4 linked regions of the Homo sapiens genome follow. The protein of the gene in region 2 purifies or fractionates together with the protein of the main gene of each other region. This does not show direct contact. Each region holds a gene or a part of one and is shown on either strand. Other genes may lie near its edges.

Region 1 (4,466 bases), on a different chromosome or scaffold from region 2:
ATTTATCTGGTCATGAAATCAATGCAAGGTTTTGAGCATGAGGTGCTGATATGTGAGTGCTAAGAGCTCTCCTAAATATGACTTTGTGATTCAAGTATCCAAAACACAATAGAAAAAGGTCACTTTGGACCACTGCATATCCATTAGGGTGGCTATTATTAAACACACACAACGCATACACACAGAGAGAAAATAACAAGTGTTGGTGAAGATGTGGAGAAACTGGAACCCTTATGCACTCTTAATGAGAATGTAAAATGGTGTGGCTACTATGGAAAATAGTATAGCAGTTCCTCAAATAAATTAGACACAGAATTATCATATGATCAGACTGGGCGTGGTGGCTCATGCCTTCAATCCCATAACTTTGGGAGGCCCAGGTGGGTGGATCACTTGAGGTCAGGAGTTCAAGACCAGCCTGGTCAACATGGTGAAACCCTGTCTTTACTAATAATACAAAAATCAGTTGGGCAAGGTGGTGCACACCTGTAATTCCAGCTCCTTGGGAGGCTGAGGCAGGAGAATCACTTGAACCCGGGAGGTGGAGGTTGCAGTGAGCCAAGATCACACCACTGCACTCCACCCTGGGCAACAGAGTGAGACTCCATCTCAAAAAAGAATTATGGTATGATCAGACCCAGCAATTCCACTTCTGGATATACACCCCAAAAATTTAAAGCAAGGACTTGAAGAGATGTTTGTACACCCGTGTTCATAACAGCATTACTCACGCTAGCCAAAAGCAACCCCAAGGGTCCATCCATGGATGAATGGGTAGAAAAAATGTGGTATATACATGGGATGGAATATTATTCAGCCCATAAAAGGGAATGAAATTCTGATGTATGCTGTAAAATGGATGAACTTTGAGGAGATGAGGCTAAGGAAAACAAGCTAGACACAAGAGAACAGACATTATATCATCCGCCTACATGAAGCACCTAGAGTAGTCAAACTCACAGAGACAGAAGGGAGAAAAGAGGTTACCAGGGCCTAAGGGAAGAGGGGATTGAGGAGTTAGGATTTAATGGGTCCAGAGTTTCAGTTTGGGACGATGAAATAGTGAGACAGAAAGTGGTGCTGGTTGCAAAACAGTGGGAATGTCCTTAACACCACTGAACTGTACACTTAGAAATGATTAAAAAGGTACATTTTAATGCTTGCATATTTTTACCACAATTTAAAAGAAAAAAGTCACTTTGGTCTCCTCTGAGGAAAAAAATAAGGACTCCTTTTTTCAATTCTGACTTAGAGCTGCGGGAGAGGCAAAGATGGACAAGACATGAAATTTGGTATCAAGGAATCGTGTCTATAAATAATGGCAATACAGGCGAAACGTGGTCAGTGTTCCCATCAAACTGTAAACAAGCCCAAGGGTGCATAGCACTGAGAGAGAATAATTCTAACTGGAAGGTCTGGGATAGGCTTTATGGAAGAAACGGTATCTCAGTTGGGCTTTGAGGGACGAAAAGAAGTTCTTCACGTAGAGACACAAGGGAAAGGCACTGCAAGGGGTGTGAACAGCATAAGCCGGGCAAGAGGCAGGGGAATGCAGGTGTACTTGGGGAATAGCAAGCAGCTATGTGGACACGCAGGTATGAGGTTAAAAAGAAAAGTAGAGTTTGGCCCTGGAGAACATTGAGTCCCAGCCCAACGAATGTGAACTTTTATTCTACCGACAGCAAAGAATCAACAAAGGTTTCTGTACAAGGGGGTGGTGTCTCCCTTTTAAAGCAACTGATAGTCAATGTCAATTAGAAACAAGGCTAACAATTCATACAAAAATGAGCAAATGACATAGCTAATCAACAAGTAAATGCTCATTCATAGTAAGATAAATGCAAACTGAAACTGCACTGAGATACCATTTTTTCCCTACTAGATTTGCAAAGATCAAAAAGTCAGATAACACATCGTACTGACCAGAGTGTAGGAAGCATGCCCTCTTATGTATTGTTGGTGGCAGTAATCTCTAATCTTTATGAGGCCAATCAAGTAATATCTACTAAAATTATAAATGCACTCACCCTCTGGACCAATAATTTCACTACTAGGAGTTTAACCTACTAATACACTGAAAGTTGTGCAAAATGATGTTTGTGTAGATTTTCACACCAGTACAGTTTGCAATTGCAGGAGATAGGGAAGCCTAAACTCATCAAGAGGGAGCTGGTTAAATAAAAATAGTACATCCACTCATGGAGTACCATACAGCTATTAAAAGGAGGAAGCTCTTCACGTACAGAAAATGGAATGATCGCAAAGGGTTTTCTGTCTGGTTTTTTTGTTTGTTTTTGAATTTTCAGGGTTTTCTTTTTTTTGTTTGTTTGTTTTTTTTTTTGAGTTGGAGTCTCACTCTGTCATCCAGGCTGGAGTGCAGTGACGCAATCTCGGCTCACTGCAACCTCTGCCGCCCAGGTTCAAGTGATTCTCCTGCCTCAGCCTCCCGAGTAGCTGGGATTACAGGCACCTGCCACCACACCCGGCTGATTTTTGTATTTTTAGTAGAGATGGGGTTTCACGATGTTGGCCAGGCTGGTCTCGAACTCCTGACCTCAAGTAATCCACCCACTTCAGCCTCCCAAAGTGCTGGGATTACAGGCGTGAGCCACTGTGCCCAGCCCAGGTTTTGAAATTTCAGGTTTGTTGGAATATAATTCACACCACACAATTCACACACTGAAAGTGTAAATTGCAACGTTTTCTAGTAGATTTACAGAGTTAGTCAACAATCAATCATTACAACAATCAATTTTCAAACATTTCATTGCCCCAAAATGAAACCCAGTACCCACTGGCAGTCACTTCCCATTTTTTTGCTTGCTTTTAAAAAACAGACTCAGAAATACCATTTGGATTAAATACACACTCACACCACACACACACATATATATGTACATGTGTATAGTCACTTGAATACACATATCACTGGTTGCTTACACGGATAAGAATGAGGTGACCAGGAGACAGAATAAGAGAGAAAGATGCACTGTATATCCTTCCCTAACTTTTGAATTGTGTACTACACAATTTTTTTTTAAGTAGGTGAGGAGAAAGCAACTGTCCTAAAAGGTCAAAGTGGGCCGGGCATGGTGGATCACGCCTGTAATCCCAGCACTTTGGGAGGCTGAGGTGGGCGGTTCACGAAGTCAAGAGATCGAGACCATCCTGGCCAGCATGGTGAAACCCCGTCTCTTCTAAAAATACAAATATTAACCGGGCGTGGTGGCACATGTCTGTAGTCCCAGCTACTGGGGAGACTGAGGCAGGAGAATTGCTTGAACCCGGGAGGCAGAGGTTGCAGTGAGCCGATATCGTGCCACTGCATTCCAGCCTGGCGACAGAGTGAGACTCTGTCTCAAAAAAAAAAAAAAAAAAAAGGTCACAGTGGAAACTATGTCTTCTGCAAATGGCAGAGGGAATAGGAGAAGAGCTGGTGATTCCTTTTGACCAGTCATGGGCAACCTGTGGGAAGAGATATATAAAGAAGGGGGTACAATGCAAACTGTCCATGCCACCCCCCCCAGGAGAGGTTTAATTGTTTTATGTTCTCGTTTATGCTGCCAGATTACAGGGAGGAAACACATATAAAAATCATCTCATAATTAGAAGCAGAGAATGTTACAGTGGATGAGTCTGGTGACAAGCCAGTCTACTCTCTTATTCTGCAGACGAGGAAATGACAATCAAGAGGTGACATTCTCCAACACCACCCAGCTGGTGGGTGAGCAAAGGCAAGCCCAGAAACCTGGCTCCTTTTCTAGCCACCCACCCACTCCCACCTTCCCCACGCCATAGCAAATGATATCAATGGTGACTAATGGTCACCATTCCATGGCCTCCTGGAAACTCTAGACTAAATTCTGCTTCCACATGAATAGGGATATACCCAGCATTTGTCCATAAGTGCTGGTTTATTAATTCAGCCAGATATGCCAAGATGTCGCCCCCATTCTCAAGATGCAAATCACAGTGTTAAGTCCACAACAGAGTTTCACCCAAGGCCAGGGATCGCTGGTGCTGGCGGAAGCCGAACCAGCCAATGGGTGGCCAACACGCCTTATTCCAAAGCAATGCCCCGAATGTTTCCCTCACTAATCCCACAAATAAGTCAAATGTCAAATAAGACATTTGCTTATTTTGTGAGACAAAGGGCAGCCCAGCACCCAGGACATGCAGAGGTGTATTAAATATCACACTTTGTTCTTTCCCAAAGAACAACTTAAAACCTCTTCCTCATTCCTTTCATGTATACCTTAAAAACTCACCCAGGCTCAGCTCTCCCACTTTGATAATTTTTTGAGTAGGGATAAGGGGTGTCAGATTTTTAGTGCTGATGCTAGGATCTCCAGTGAAAACCTCTTTTAAACAGAATGCCAGGGTAATGACCATTTGATTTTACTAGAAAAGTGCAGTTCATAATAACCGTGTTCATTATTTTACATCTTACTGCTAAAAATGCAACA
Region 2 (6,138 bases):
ACCAAATGGGACTTGACAGTAATCCCTCAAGATGGCAGAGGATTTACATTTTTTTGACCTCCCACTAAGTCAGACACTAGGCTGCTTCTTTTTTTTTTTTGAGACAGAGTCTTGCTCAGTCTTCCCAGGCTGGAGTGCAGTGGCATGATTTCGGCTCACTGCAACCTCTGCCTCCCGTGTTCAAGTGATTCTCCTGCCTCAGCCTCCTGAGTAGCTGGGGTTACAGGTGTGCACCACCATGCCTAGCTAATTTCTTTTTATTTTTAGTAGAGACGGGGTTTCACCATGTTAGTCAGGCTGGTCTCGAACTCCTGACCTCGTGATCTGCCCGCCTCGGCCTCCTAAAATGCTGGGATTACAGGTGTGAACCACCGCATCCGGCCTGGCTTTCTGCTTCTTAATCTTTTGAGGTAGATAGCATCATCACTATTTTACACAAGAGGACTCAAGGCTCAGAGAGGTTAAAGTGATCTGCCCAAGGTCACAGAGCTAGAAGGCAGTACTAACCACATCTACTCTAGGTCTATCTCTGATAATTTTTTTTTTTTTTTGAGACAGAGTCTCGCTCTGTCACCCAGACTGTAGTGCAATGGTGCGGTCTCGGCTCACTGCAACCTCCACCTCCTGGGTTCAAGCGATTCTCCTGCCTCAGCTGCCCAAGTAGCTGGGATTACAGGCATGCACCACCACTCCCTGATAATTTTTGTATTTTTAGTAGAGACAGGGTTTCACCATGTTGGCCAGGCTGGTCTTGAACTCCTGACCTCAGGTGATCCACCCGCCTTGGCCTCCCAAAGTGCTGGGATTACAGGCGTGAGCCACTGCGCCTAATTTCATCTTTCTTATCACCTCTCCTTGCCATGAAACATGGTTAGTGGCTGCGACCTTATTTTATATGTTCTTGTATAGTCACAGAGTTTTACAAGCAATCGTGCCTATTACATCACTGTGAAATGATGGAATGTTCAAGAATGAAAAGATACATCCCTCTACCCCACCCCCAATATATAATAGCCCATTTTTACAGCTTCTTCCCAGAGGCATGGCTTTGTAAGTGTCTGGATTGGTGACTCTTATGGGAGTGTCCAACAAATGACCTGGAGAGAATTCAAGCAGGGTCTTACCGAGCAGGACCTGGGTAAGGAGGCTGGCGATGCTGAATGGGGAAAAGGCCATGTTGGTCTCCACCTTCTTCATTGCTGAGAAGGCGTGGTAGAGCTTCAGGGAGAAATCTACCAAAGCATCCCCCAACACGGCCTCTGTTGAATGACTCTCCAAGTCAGAGCAGAGAGTAACAGGTCCTGGGCAGAAGGACCCAGTAGTGGGCTGGGTAGGAGAATCTGTTGGGAGCTGGGTAGTTGGTTGGGTGGGTTGGATGGTGGGTTGGGTGGTGGGCTCTGTGGTGGGTTGTGTGGTGGGTTCATCAGTGGTATTAGCTGTTATTTTGGTGGCTGAATTGGTTGTTGAGTTGGTTGTCGGCAAGCTGGAAACCTCCAGGATGGGTTCAACGAATAGCATCTTGGAGATAACTGTTGTTGCGACCTTCCCTTCGCCTCTGTCTTGCAAACTCTCTGGATCCTGGGAGCTGGAGCTGGTAGCATTTGGATTTGAGGAGGCTCTATCCTGTGGTTCAAGAAACTGAGTTTCATTTTTTTCTTACTACGAGGCACAGTCCTCTAAAATACTCAAAGCAGGAAGAGAAGGTGTGGATGTGGAAAATGTCCTGTACAAGAGAGTAATTTCTGACAGTGCGGCAGATGAGCAATCTGTCTTAGAACCACCACCACTAATTCCTCAGAGAAGGGGCAATACAGGGTGAGGGTGGGGGTGCACAGGAATGTGCTCTGCAGAAGATGAGGGATAGTCAGGGACTCTGTAATCTCTGACCAATTACTGCCCTGTAGGAAGTTGTTTTCCAAACAGTGAAGCTGAGTGTTGTCATTTATCTATGTTCTTGCAATTTCCTGTAAATATCTACCTGTTTGACTCACTTGCTTGGCTAGTACAGACATTTGAACTTGTGCTCCTTGATTTAGAACAGTAAATTTTTAAACTGTGGGTTGCAACCCATTAGTGGGTGTGGAAAAACAGTACACATTAGGAAGGGAACGAAGAAAGGGAAGGAGGAAAGAAGGGAGGCAGGAAGGGAGGGAGAGAGAAGTAGTATAGGCCAGCGGCTCTGAAACAATTTTGACTCCCAGGGGATATTTGGCAATGTCCAGAGACATTTTTGGTTGTCACAGGGAGACAGCAGGGAAGATGCTACCGGAATCTAGTGCGTAGAGGCTAGAGATATACTGCAAAACATCCTAAAATGCGCAGGGTAGCCCCTCAGCAATGAATTATCCAGCCCCAATGTCAACAGATCCTCCACTGAGAAACCACGCATTAGCTCCATTTCACAGGTAGAGAAACTCATACCGACACATATTAACTAGTCCAGGGTCTCACAGAAATGGGAGAAACAGCTAGGGGTCAAAACAAGGTCTCTGATTCCAAACTCCCTGCTCATAACTACATCATCTGCTGAGTATGTGATACCAACTTGCGCGTGCACACACACACACACGCACATACACACACCCCTACCTACCTTTCTCCTGGGATCCTGCACTTCTTAGCCTTATTTCTAGTCCATGACCTCCCAGACCACTGGGACCTCTCACTGCTATTGACCCCCACCCAGACCCACGTATGTTTGCTACCATTCTTCCCTGTCTTCACAGGCCCTAGCCTGGGACCACCGTCTGTGTCACAGCAGCCAAACCTCTCCTCCCCACAGCTCTTTTCTACAACAAACTCTTGCTTTGATATCACAAAATGCTTCCCATCTCCTTGCCCTATGTGATCCTCCTGCCAAGCCTGCTTGGTGGACAGGGTGGGATCTGTTTATTCAACATTTTATAAATCAGGAGGAGTAGGCTGAGAAAAGTGACGTCCTCAGGACCACGCTGCGCAGCTCCTACATGGCCCGCCAAGATTAGAACTTGCATCTGTCTGAGTCCTGAGCTCTTTCCACCATCTACGAGTGCGTGTGCAAGGATCACACTCAATGATCCCAAGAGGAGCTCTCCTCATTCCCCGGAGCCTGAAGGGTTAATCCTCAGCCACCGCCCGCACCCCGCACCATCCCGCCTCCCGTCTCCACCCCCGTCCCCCATCCCACAAGGGACCACATACCCCAGCCAGCAGCAGCAGCAGGAGGGTCAGCAGGGTCAGCCTGGAGGCCATCTGGGCGGCGACGTCAGCGGACCTGCGGAGCCAGCCAGCCTCGGAGCCAGCTCCCACCCTGGGAGCCCAGGGGCCCCCACCCCGCCCGGGGCCCGCCCCCATTCCGTCTCAGGCCCCAGTCCCTCTTAGCGAATTCCCTCCTCCTCCCTCCTGGGGCCACCTTCTCCCTGGCTCCTCCCTCTGTTTTGTTTTCCCCAAACCGCTTCCCTTTCCCGGCACCGGCTGGCCCTTCCTCTCCCCGTGGGCCCGGGTCTCTGTCCATCTGTTCAGTCGGAGGGGAGGTGGTGGGAGGGGGAGGGGGTCCTGCTTTAACCAAACAATGAGGCCAGAGGCGTGGGGGAGGGGAGGTCCTGGGGGGCTGAGCACAACAGGCCTGAGGCGGGAGGGGCTGGGGTAGGAGGAGGCAGAAGTCCCAGGTGGAAGCAAGCCTATAGAGACCCCCGAGATCAAGGCGGGCAGGAAGGCGGGGGTGAGGAGACCCCCTCCCTAGACCTCTTCACTCCATGCTTTCCACCCTACTCCCCACCCCTGCCCAGCACCAAACCTACTCCAAACTTCTGGTCACCAGGCAGCTCCAGTGCAGACTGAGTAGAGAGTCCCCCAGGGTCAGGGAGGGTGGGGTGCGGGGGGGGCAGTCTTAGCTATTGGCTGGCCCGGGACACTGCCCAGTTACAAATTAAGGAAGATTGATCGCTGGTGTGAGTTCCTGTAAATCAGGATGGGACGGAATGGGACTGACCGCTTGGTCTTCTTTGTGGGCCAGGCCAGGAATTTAGCCCAAATCCCCTGGTAGGTGGGGTGAACGGGGAAGCTTGGGTGCAGTTCTCAGCTTTACACAACCAAAGCTTCCCCCGCGTCTTCATGAGTAACAATAAAAACAGCATGTACACAAAATGTGCTCCGCAGTTTTTAAAGGAATGAACTTTTTGGAAATTGCTCACCTCCGTTATTCCTCAAAGTAACCCTTTGTGCCCCATTGTACCCATTTGATAGTTAAGATACTGAGCCTTAGAGCAGTGAAATGTCGGGCCCTGATCACCCTCATTTGGAGAAGTATTCTGAAGCCTAATCCCTGCTCCCATCTCCCCTGTGCCCTGTAGGTGTTCTGCCATTTTTGCTCGTAGAGACCCATAATCAGTAGTTCTTTGTATAACAGACAACGGATGTGAGGCACCCAGCTCAACAAGCATTCAACCTAATTAAAAAAAAAAAAAAAAAAAAAGCTAGCCGGGCACGGTGGCTCACGCCTGTAATCCCAGCACTTTGGGAGGCCGAGGTGGGTGGATCACTTGAGGTCAGGAGTTTGAGACCACTCTGGCCAATATGGGGAAACCCCGTTTCCGCTAAAAGTACAAAAATTAGCTGGGCAGTGCAGGCGCGCACATGTAGTCCCAGCTACTAGGGAGGCTGAGGCACAATCACTTGAATCTGGGAGGCAGAGGTTGCAGTGAGCTGAAATTGCACCACTGCACTCCAGCCTGGGTGACAGAGCAAGACTGTCTCAAAAAACAAATAACTAACTAAATAAATATTTAAAAACTTGAAAGCTGGGGTGTATGTGTTTGCGACTAGGGCTCCACAATAGACCTGGCTGGCTGTGTGAGCCAGCAAGTTGCTTTCCCCCTTGACGTCTGGCTGTCCTCGAAATCTGGCTGTCCTCGACATCTAGCTGTCCTCTCAGCATTGCCAGATAAAACACACGAAGTAGGCAGGCCTGGGGGTTCATACCTGTAATCCCAGCCTTTTAGGAGACTGAGGCAGGAGGATCCCTTGAGCCCAGGAGTTCAAGGCTGCAGTTAGCATTGATCATGCCACTGCACTCCAGCCTGGGCAACAGAGTAAGACACTTGCTGTCTCTAAAAAAAAAAAAAAAAACTTACATTGGGATATACTTATGGTAAAAATGCTTACATTGGAATATACTTATGGTAAAATAAATTTTGTTGTCATTGTTGTGTATCTGAAATTCAAATATAATTGGCATTTTGTATTTTTGCTAAATCTGATAACTCTGCCTCATCTGCAAAACAAACAGGTTGTCTCTGATGACCTAATATAGCTATCATGTTCTATCGTCATCTCACTGCAGGCCTATCCTCTGGCTGTGTTTGGAGCATTCAGGAAAGTTTGCTGCTAGCACCAGAACTGCTACTCTAAGGGACTGACCAAGGACAGAAACAGGAGAATATTTGTGTGTCTCCTCGGGGGTCCTTGGACAAGACCCAGAAAGAGTCTTCCCCAGCTTTGTGCTTTATTCTCTGAAGCCACTTGGGAACCTCCTAAACCATGGGAAAGTTATATAACATCAGAGCCATCGTTTGAACAGCTGCACACAAAACAACGTTTCTCCATCCCCAGTGCTCAAGCTGGTGGGCTCAAAGGGACTATGAGCTTGTGGATTCTGGGAAATGGGTCAGCCAAAGGAAAAGAAGGTGGTGGAAAGCAACCTAATTCACTGAGTGCTCACCATGCATTTACATTCATCCTCTCACTAATTCTCATCACCTATGAAGTAGGTGCTATATTAATCCCATCTTAAACAAGTTAAAATGAGGCTCAGAGAAATTAATTGATCTACCTAATATCACAAAGCCAGTAAGTGACAGAGCCAGGATGTGGACCAGGTCTGTTTGACCCAACAGTTCTTTATTAACCCTTACAAATTATTGACACACACCAGGGGCTAACCTGAAGCAGACAGCAAAGGGAATATTCTGGGTACAGCTGCAAGAGTACGATGCTTTGTGGGCCAAAGTTCCAGGGTGAAAAAGCCCCAGTGGAGAGGTTTTCCCAGCTTGTGGGTCTACCTCCTTCAGCCATCTATAATAGCTCTCTGGCCAAAGCCATTCCTGCACTCTGCACATTTAAATGATGTCTGCTTTGTGAAGTCTCCCCTGCCTGCTGAAG
Region 3 (4,742 bases), on a different chromosome or scaffold from region 2:
AGCTCCTAGACCTTAATCTCTATGATCATGTAGGAATCACTCTAATCTTGATGTTTCCCCCAAGTCCTTTCTTTGACTTTGAGACATTTCCAGAGGACCCTCTAACAGTGGAGAAGGACAAATGGCCACTCATGCCCCAATATTTTTAATAATAAATACATTCATTTGTTGGGGATGGGAGCTTTTTTCCTCAGCTTCTCCCAATTTGATTTTAGGCTTTGAAGTTTTCTATGGCCAAATAAGAGGAAAATGCTGCAGCCATAGCTGAAAATTCAACTATGAGAGTCTGTTATTTGGATAAAAATATGCTACCAGGGAGGAAAAACATCCACTGTTCTGTTGGTTTGGATTCATGTATGTGATTAGCTTGCTCAGCTAAGGGCTGAGGGCAAGTGACACAAGATGCCCTCAAAAGAAATTGATTTATGTATTTACTGAAAGGAAGGAGGAAGAAAGTGACAGGACTCTGGAGTTAAATATTGTCGAATGTTTAATTTAGCCTAAAACACTTTCTACCTTTCAGGGAGAAACTGTTCCCAATATTCCCCTTATAATGAGCCCTCCTGAAAATCAGTCTACTGGTTTTCCCCAGTAATTTCTATCCTTAATGACCCTCTCTTTCATCTTGTTTTTTTTTTTTAATCATTCATTCTTGTCTTCTTGCTGATTTTAGATGATGGGAAATGCCCCTTGAATCCTCACAGGTAAGGTAGAAATGTTTTATGATTGAGTAAATTTTGCTACCTTAACTTTATAATTCACTGTAATATGTCAGAATGATTACATGCAATGCCTGCCTCCTTTTTACAATGTCTTTTGCAATGTCTTCTTTTCTACTCTGAAGTAAAATACACAGATAACAAATATTCTAATTAAAATATAAAGTAGGAATAAAATGAAAAGTAATTTATAATAAAAACAAGATGCAAAAACTTAGGCGCTGTGCCAGTAGATGCAATGAGGTCATCAGAAGCGTGCACCTTCCACAGAATCACTAGGAAAGCAACGCCCACGCAGGTGGACTGATGGGGGAATGTTGTATTAGTGACTCAAAGAGCATTAGAACTGTGGCCAACACCAGCCTAATTTTTCAACATGGTGAACAACTCCGGTAAAGAGTCTGAAAACCTGTGATAATTGTCCTTTGATTCATATGGCAATTGCATTTTAAAGATGCAAAAAAATGCTTAATATTTACATGTAAAGTGCTTGAGTTCCAGGCTCAGAGATTTTTAACCTGTATGAATATCGAGCAGATATTCCAAAGTTATGTGGGATGTTGGACAATTCTTTTGTGTCCTGTACCCCTTGCTATTTATAATCTAGCAATAGTTTTCAAAAAGGGACAGTATGCCCCCAAGGGTATTTTTTTATTTTTGTAATGAACAAGAGTTCTACTGACATTGAGTGGGCAGGAGGCAGGGGTGCTGGATATCTTTTAAAGACATTTCCGTCCTGGAGGACATGGAAATCCTTATATGAACTCTATTGTCGTAGACATCCAGCACCCTTGCCCCATACCCACTCAATATCGGAAGAACTCTTGGTTATAAAAATCAAAAAACACCCCTAGGGGTCATATTGCACCCTTTGAAAACTATCGTTAGATTATCAAGTGTTAATGCCAAGAATTTTGTAACTACCTCTTGTCACCTAGAAGAGGTTGCAGCAACTTAGAGGGTATAACAGGTATTCAGTACATAAAGCATGAACAATAACTTAGTGTGGGTGCAAAATGCAATGCAAATTACCCAGAGCTGGTAAGTGGGATATCGAATATTTCTTTGGCATTTATTTTTCTTTCCTTTCTAAAGCAGAATTCCAAGGGTGGATGGTAATTTGTGGTTTCTGGAAATACTATGTGTTGGACTGTGTTGTCGAGAACTAAGCAGTATATTGTTGCCATCCTTGTGTTTCTGTTCTTTAGCCACCTAGGAACATATGGAGTTTTTACAAACGCTGCATTTGACCCGAGTCCTTAAGGTAAGATCCCTATAAAGATATTTTTGAAGGAAATAGAACACTAGGGAAAAATGGAAGACTATAAAGCTTAACTTTTCTTTACATAATCATATATTAAATTTTAAGTATGTATTAAATTTTCAGGCATGAAGGAAATTGTGTTGGCAGTAGGACACAGGTATGACAATGGAGTTACAAAAGAGTTCACAAAAGGATTTTCATTTCCTCCAGGACAGAAATGTCCTAACAAGACATAACTTATTTCAGGATGTGTAACATTTCCATTATTAACTGCTAGGTGGTGATGATGTGGCCTTGCCTGCAAAGCAGAAGTCAGGACTGCTGAAAAATGTTTACGAACTGTTATGGAGTCAATTCCCTATGCTACCTGCTGGAAAAACAAAAATAATCTGATGCTATCCCTCTCCCAAAAAGTGGGTAGTTGAGTGTCCTACAAAAAGCCTGAATGGCAGAATATTCGAAATCTAGAAAGAAAAGATTATGCTGCGCCTCAGGGTGTAGATATGATGAGCAATTTTTTTCTTTCTTTTATTTTTTTAAGGAAATGATAATTATTTAAATTTCTTTGGTCTCATTTCCAGAGACCTGTCCTTTTCCTGGTCTCCTCATTCAGCCTCCATATGATCCTGTTGTGAACATCAAGTTTCCTGCTACACTGGACTTAACTATAATGCATTTGCTGCAGGTTTCCATAAACACCCATGAATCAAAGACATGGAATTACCTTAGATTAGCTCTGGACCAGCCTGTTGGACCCGCTCTGGACCAACCCTGTTTCCTGAGTTTGGGATTGTGGTACAATCTCAAATTCTCAACCTACCACCCCTTCCTGTCCCACCTCTTCTCTTCCTGTAACACAAGCCACAGAAGCCAGGAGCAAATGTTTCTGCAGTAGTCTCTGTGCTTTGACTCACCTGTTACTTGAAATACCAGTGAACCAAAGAGACTGGAGCATCTGACTCACAAGAAGACCAGACTGTGGAGAAATAAAAATACCTCTTTATTTTTTGATTGAAGGAAGGTTTTCTCCACTTTGTTGGAAAGCAGGTGGCATCTCTAATTGGAAGAAATTCCTGTAGCATCTTCTGGAGTCTCCAGTGGTTGCTGTTGATGAGGCCTCTTGGACCTCTGCTCTGAGGCTTCCAGAGAGTCCTCTGGATGGCACCAGAGGCTGCAGAAGGCCAAGAATCAAGCTAGAAGGCCACATGTCACCGTGGACCTTCCTGCCACCAGTCACTGTCCCTCAAATGACCCAAAGACCAATATTCAAATGCGTAATTAAAAGAATTTTCCCCAAATGCCGTGTTCCTCTATTTTATGGTTTGTTCAGTAAGGTCTGTATACATCACATTGTTTACCATCAGTGTAATAACACACAATTATGGTTGTCCTATTTACACCTCAACCATTCATTCAGTCAGCAAATATGTATCGCACACCCTACACTGCAAGAGAAAATCAGAGAAATGGAAAAATTCTTCATCACCTTAATATTTTACAGGGAAGAACAAATGTGTTTTACATGTTCTTTAAATCCCATGTTTAATAAATAGGTCATTGAAAGTTATATAGTATTTATCTGGAACTGATGTTAAAAAAAATAGAGAGCCAAAAATTATAGTAGTCATCTTGTCTCTGTAAAATGTAATTAAATAAATATGTCATGTACACTGTATATACATAAGCAAACATGCAAATAAAAAAGCAGCCTACTCAAAGGTTACAATAATGTTGCAACAATTCTGGTAGTAACCTTGGGATTTAGGGACACAGTGCTTTCAAAACGTTTCTCTGATACACTGCCAGTAGCATCTCTGACTGCTTATTTAAATGTCAATCAGTAGGCTAGGTGTTCTAGGACTTTGGTCTCAACCCTGTTTCCTGAGTCAGAATCTACATTTTGTAAAAGTTCCCCTGGGAATTCTGATGGTCTGCCAACTTTGGGAGACACTGATAATATTGTAGATAAAGAAGTGTAAGCAACTGTTCAGTTAGGGAGACAATAGATACCTGCATGGAATAACAAAAGGTAATTAACATGATTATATAATTTGAATAGTGTTGTAATAGTTCATAAAATGGAAAAGCCAATTTGAGCCCAGAATCTGGGAGATAGGCAGAACTCTGGACTGTAAAGAATGGCCCAGCAAAGAGGAAGAAAATGGGCATTCTAAGTTGGTGCAATAATATCAGCACAGGAGAAAAGACAGAATATTGGGGGGAGTGGGGAGGGAGGAAGAGGCTGTTGATGAGCCTGATATCATTAACAGAGACCTCATGTGAGGTGCCAGATTACAATTTATTGAATGTACTGAATGCATAAAGCATAAGACAGAAACCTGGAGCCATGCAGATACAGGGAACCCAGGACAAGTCATTATGATGCCTCAGACAATATAATTCGCAGATTCTCTATCAATAGCAAAGTAAGATTTAAGGTGCTGTGAAACAGTCAGATCCTTCAAGAAAAACAAGAATACAAGGGGTCCTGGAGACAGGAAAATATGATCATAATAATAAATTTGTGATTCCTTCTTTCTCTCTTTTTCTCTTTCTTTCTTTTTCTTTCTTTCTTTTTTTTTTTTGATGGAGTTTTGCTCTCGTTGCCCAGGCTGGAGTAAAATGGCATGATATCAGCTCACTGCAAACTCCACCTTCCAGGTTCAAGCAATTCTCTTGCCTCAATCTCTCGAGTAGGTGGGATTACAGGTGTCCACCACAACGCCCGGCTAATTTTTTATATTTTTAGTAGAGAAGGG
Region 4 (4,466 bases), on a different chromosome or scaffold from region 2:
ACACCAATGGCTCCCAGATCATAGATTCCACAAATCAATTTAAAAAGTATTACGAAAAAAGATTCTCAAATTGTTATCTAGCCCAGTTGATATTTAAAATATTAACAATAACTATCATTTACCACCATCATTGTTTCACAAAAGAAACTATTTTTTTTTTCTGAGACTGAGTCTCGCTCTGTCACCCAGTCTGGAGTGCAGTGGTGCGATCTCTGCTCATTGCAACATCCACCTCTCAGGTTCAAGCAATTCTCCTGCCTCAGCCTCCCAAGTAGCTGGGACTACACGCCCAAGCCACCATGCCCACCTAATTTTTTTTTTTCTTTTTTTGAGACATAGTCTTACTCTGTTGCCCAGACTCCTAATTTTTGTATTTTTAGTAGAGACAGGTTTCACCATGTTGAACTCCTTGTTTCAAGTAATCCACCCATCTCAGCTTCCCAAAGTGCTGGGATTACAGGCATGAGCCACCATGCCCAGCCTGGAATGAAATTTTGATTTAAAAAAAAAAGAAAGAGCCAGAAACACAATATCAGAGTAAAGGATTGTCCTTTAGATGGATAAATGTTAGATATAAAAAACTTCATTATCCTTATTTTTTTTTCATTTTTACTACACAGAGTGGTGAAACAATATTATGACCTGGCACCCATCTGTAGACCAACACTGGAAAACTAGTGCCTTATAACTGATATTCTTAACTGAGGCTTGATGGTATCAACATCCCTTACTCCTAAAGGCTGAACACTTGACCTCTTCTCTCTCTTCCTTGTTCAGAGTTTAATTTTTTAAAAAATAGCTACAGAGGCCGGGCACGGTGGCTCATGTCTGTAATCCCAGAACTTTGGGAGGCTGAGGCAGGTGGATCACCTAAGGTCAGGAGTTTGAGACCAACCTGACCAACATGGAGAAACCCCTTCTCTACTAAAAATGCAAAATTAGCCAGGTATGGTGGCGCATGCCTGTAATCCTAGCTACTCAGGAGGCTGAGGCAGGAGAATCGCTTGAACCCAGGAGGCAGAGGTTGTGGTGAGCCGAGATGGCACCATTGTATTCCAGCCTGGGCAATAAGAGCAAAACTCCTTCTCAAAAAAAAAAAAAAAAAAAAAGACAGAGCCATGTTCATGGTGACAATCCTGCCCTTTGTTCCTTTTTCTTTTTTTTAACTTGGGATTGGATGTTTGGATTATTTTAAGTTTTGTTTCTGATATGAAAAATTTCGTGAAGCAAATCTTTGTACTCATGTAAAAAATAGACCAAAGATTTCTGAGACAGATGCAAAATATGGTTTTGCATCTTATTTTATATACATTTACATAATAAATTTGAGGCTGATATATTCCTCTTAGATTCTATGCCCAATAATATAAGCTTAGGAATGACTAAGTCTCAGCACTAGAGTCCCGACTACAAAGAGCATTTTCAAATTCCTTCAAGTTTGGTTGAATTGGACATGATTTTAATTTTCTGCCAATTGTTACCCCTCTTCAATTCTTGGAAAAGTTTTCATACTTTTTGTGTAATCTGGCAATTGCACTCCTTTCCCCAGTTGTGGGATACTCTCTGTATCTTTTTTCTTGCATGTCTGTCTGTCTCTCTCTTTCTCTCTCTCCCTGTCTCCCTCTCTCTGTCTCTGTCTCTGTCTCTCTCTCTCTCTCTCTCTCTCACACACACACACACACACACACACCCACTCATAGAGCTTTAGGAAGCAACAACACTATTTGTGTACGTATGTCACTTAATCTGGCACTGCCATGACAAAGTCTGCTTAGACAACCCACCTGAGGGTCGAAGACTTCACAGTTTATGACAAGGTTTTTCGGGCTTTCCAAGTCCAAGGCTTCTACATCATAGAACAAATCTGCTCTGCAGAATCCAAAGACCTACAAAGGAATGAGGAGCTGTTAGTGTGTGTGTCCAGGTGGTGTGAAGATGACCAGCCAGAGTTAGCTTCCAGACATTCAGAAAAGGAAGAAGTGCTTTAGAAAAATCAGGGTAATATGATCAGATATTCCCACCAGTCGTTCAGCAATCTTTCCTTGTTAACACTTTGGGGAAAGTGCAGGTGGTGAAGGGTATCACTAAAGTTGCTGTGGTTTTTTTCATGAGCAGGCACCAGCACTGGGCTTCCCCATGGGTGATGGAAATGATGAGGAAAACCACATCATTGCTGCCTTGCCTTTAGGCCAACCCTTCTGCACTGGAGACCTCAGTTGCCTGTGCCTAGGACAATGAGGAATGGTGTCAAAGAGGGATTTTTACAACTTCAGCTGGTCCCTTGGAGGAAAGTGTTGGACAGGAGGGCATCTGTATAGCATAAAGATGGGTTTTCATGGACATTGTCAAGGCAAGTGTCTGCTGACTCCACCCAAGTGCCAGGGCTACAACTGGCTGCCACTCCTGTGCTCCAGATGCTCCTAAACCCACCTGTGAAAGATCGACTAGGACAAGAGGACGGCTGTCTGCTAGAAGAAATTGCTAAGCATTGAGGTTCTGAGTACAGTTTGGGAATCAGAGAGACCTATGTTAATCCTGGCTTCTCCATTTCCTAGTTGTCTGAGTTTGGGAAAGTTACAAAAGATTTCTGAAAGTCAGCCATTGTAAAATGGGGATAATACTATGTACTCACAGGTTGTGGGAGGGATTAATTAAACAAGAGGATGCTGTAAAACACTTACCCCTGAGCCTCCTCTTCAGCTCTGGTGCTTCAACTCTGGGTTTACATTATCCACACCAAGATCATGAAGGGTTTGTTGGCCATAGGAGTAGGGGAGGGAGGTGTCTTTTCTGGTGGGCGCTAAGAAGGTTTCTAGACCTGGTTCAGTGTGGACATTAGAAGAGCTAACAAAGGTACTAATGGATGGTTTCTCCCTTTTGACCAGGGAGAATGTGTTGTTAAACCTCAGAAAAATCCTGGACTTGGCATCATAATTAAAATTCCATTTCCTAACACTCTCTAGCTAAGTGCCTTTAGGTAAGTGGTTTTAATTTCAGGTCCCCTTGTCACAGGAAATGTAGGCAGATACTTGCTTTTCCTTGTCAGCAGGATTTTCATGAGGCTCTCCTGGCAATAACAGATGTGGAGGTGTTTCTTTAACTGTAGGTCACCATGCAAATGCCAGGTGGTATTAATAATGTCTTCTGGCAGGTACATGGGAATCTATTTGTAAATGATTAGAGGAAAAATCCCACTGGACTTTGTATGAGAATAACTAAGTTTTAATCTCAGCTTGGTTGTGAACATCGGCAAGACCTTTCCTTTGCTGATTTTCAGTTACCTCCTCATTTGTCAAGTGGGATTCCTGTGAGTGTGATGATGTGGAATTAATAAAACCACTTGGCGTAGGGTCTTAGTACGAACTGCTATAGTTCTAACTAAGCCTTTAATCCTAATCAGTTAGAAACTTAGTTTTAAGTTTAGGTATATATCATGTATATTATAAAATCATGTTCTTATGGTTCGCTTATGTTCTCTGTGCCTCAGTTCCCCTATCTGCTAATTTGGGATTAAAAATGGTATCTATCTCATATGGTAGTGTGAGGGTTAATAAGTTATCATAGGCTGGGCATGGTGGCTTGCGCCTGTAACCCCAGCACTTTGATTTGTAATCCCAGCCGAAGTGGGTGGACACCTGAGATAAGGAGTTTGAGACCAACCTGATCAACATGGTGAAACCCCATCTCTACTAAAAATACAAAAATTAGCTGGGCGTGGTGGTGCATGCCTGTAATCCCAGTTACTCCGGAGGCTGAGGCAGGAGAATCGCCTGAACCCGGGAGGCGGAGGTTGCAGTGAGCCGACACTGTGCCATTGCACTCCAACCTGGGCAACAAGAGCGAAACTCCATCTCAAAAACAAAACAAAACAATAAGTTATCTGATGTGTAAATCACTTAGAAGAGTGCCTGGCAGGTACTAAGTGCTTCCCAGATGATACTTTGTATTTCACAGACATTTCTTCCTCCTTCTCCTCCTCCTCATTTTCTCCTTCTCATTCCTCTTCTCCTTCTTCTCCTTCCTCTCCTTCTCCTTCTCCTTCTCCTTCTTCTCTTTCTTTTTTCTCTGTGACTCTAGTCAACGATCACAGACATTTCTTATACTCACATTGGGGTGTCTGGGGAAATGGTGTCTGGGGCAGTTCCGCACAGAGAAGTCCACGAAGTAACCAGTTCCTTCCCCTCCTCTCTAGAACAGATGGGATCAAAATAGTTTCAAGAACAGACAAAGAAAAAGGAAAAAAAAGCAGTAGATAACTACCATTCAATATTTTTTAAGGCAGTATGAGAATTCAAAATCACCAGTATGTGTCATTTTTTAAAATGGTTTCTGCCTTTTAAAAATGTATCACCTAAGTGATAAGGTGAATACCAGTTCACTGAAAAGGTTCAAATAATAAATATATGATAAAGTAGAGTGTGAAAAATCACCTCTCCTGCACTCCAACTTCTTCCCAGAGTTTTCAT

Evidence for each region.
Region 1: the proteins of SERPING1 (region 2) and SEL1L3 purify together in Homo sapiens (affinity purification with mass spectrometry; one large-scale study listed by BioGRID and IntAct). This does not show direct contact.
Region 3: the proteins of SERPING1 (region 2) and SELP purify together in Homo sapiens (affinity purification with western blotting, with the first as the bait; one study listed by BioGRID). This does not show direct contact.
Region 4: the proteins of SERPING1 (region 2) and HRG purify together in Homo sapiens (affinity purification with mass spectrometry, with the first as the bait; one large-scale study listed by BioGRID). This does not show direct contact.

The regions. Positions count from the first base shown.
Region 1 is NC_000004.12:25,848,528-25,852,993, forward strand, and holds part of SEL1L3 (protein sel-1 homolog 3), read right to left. Parts: intron 1-4,466.
Region 2 is NC_000011.10:57,595,364-57,601,501, reverse strand, and holds the start of SERPING1 (plasma protease C1 inhibitor precursor), read right to left. Parts: upstream 3,818-6,138; 5' UTR 3,780-3,817; intron 3,292-3,779; exon of another isoform or gene 3,254-3,291; 5' UTR 3,232-3,253; coding exon 3,181-3,231; intron 1,624-3,180; coding exon 1,125-1,623; intron 1-1,124. UniProt on the Homo sapiens protein: Serine protease inhibitor, which acrs as a regulator of the classical complement pathway. Forms a proteolytically inactive stoichiometric complex with the C1r or C1s proteases. May also regulate blood coagulation, fibrinolysis and the generation of kinins.
Region 3 is NC_000001.11:169,587,388-169,592,129, reverse strand, and holds the end of SELP (P-selectin precursor), read left to right. Parts: intron 1-673; coding exon 674-704; intron 705-1,927; coding exon 1,928-1,982; 3' UTR 1,983-1,983; intron 1,984-2,260; exon of another isoform or gene 2,261-2,668; 3' UTR 2,669-3,281; downstream 3,282-4,742. UniProt on the Homo sapiens protein: Ca(2+)-dependent receptor for myeloid cells that binds to carbohydrates on neutrophils and monocytes. Mediates the interaction of activated endothelial cells or platelets with leukocytes. The ligand recognized is sialyl-Lewis X.
Region 4 is NC_000003.12:186,672,509-186,676,974, reverse strand, and holds part of HRG (histidine-rich glycoprotein precursor), read right to left. Parts: intron 4,189-4,466; coding exon 4,108-4,188; intron 1,887-4,107; coding exon 1,785-1,886; intron 1-1,784. UniProt on the Homo sapiens protein: Plasma glycoprotein that binds a number of ligands such as heme, heparin, heparan sulfate, thrombospondin, plasminogen, and divalent metal ions. Binds heparin and heparin/glycosaminoglycans in a zinc-dependent manner.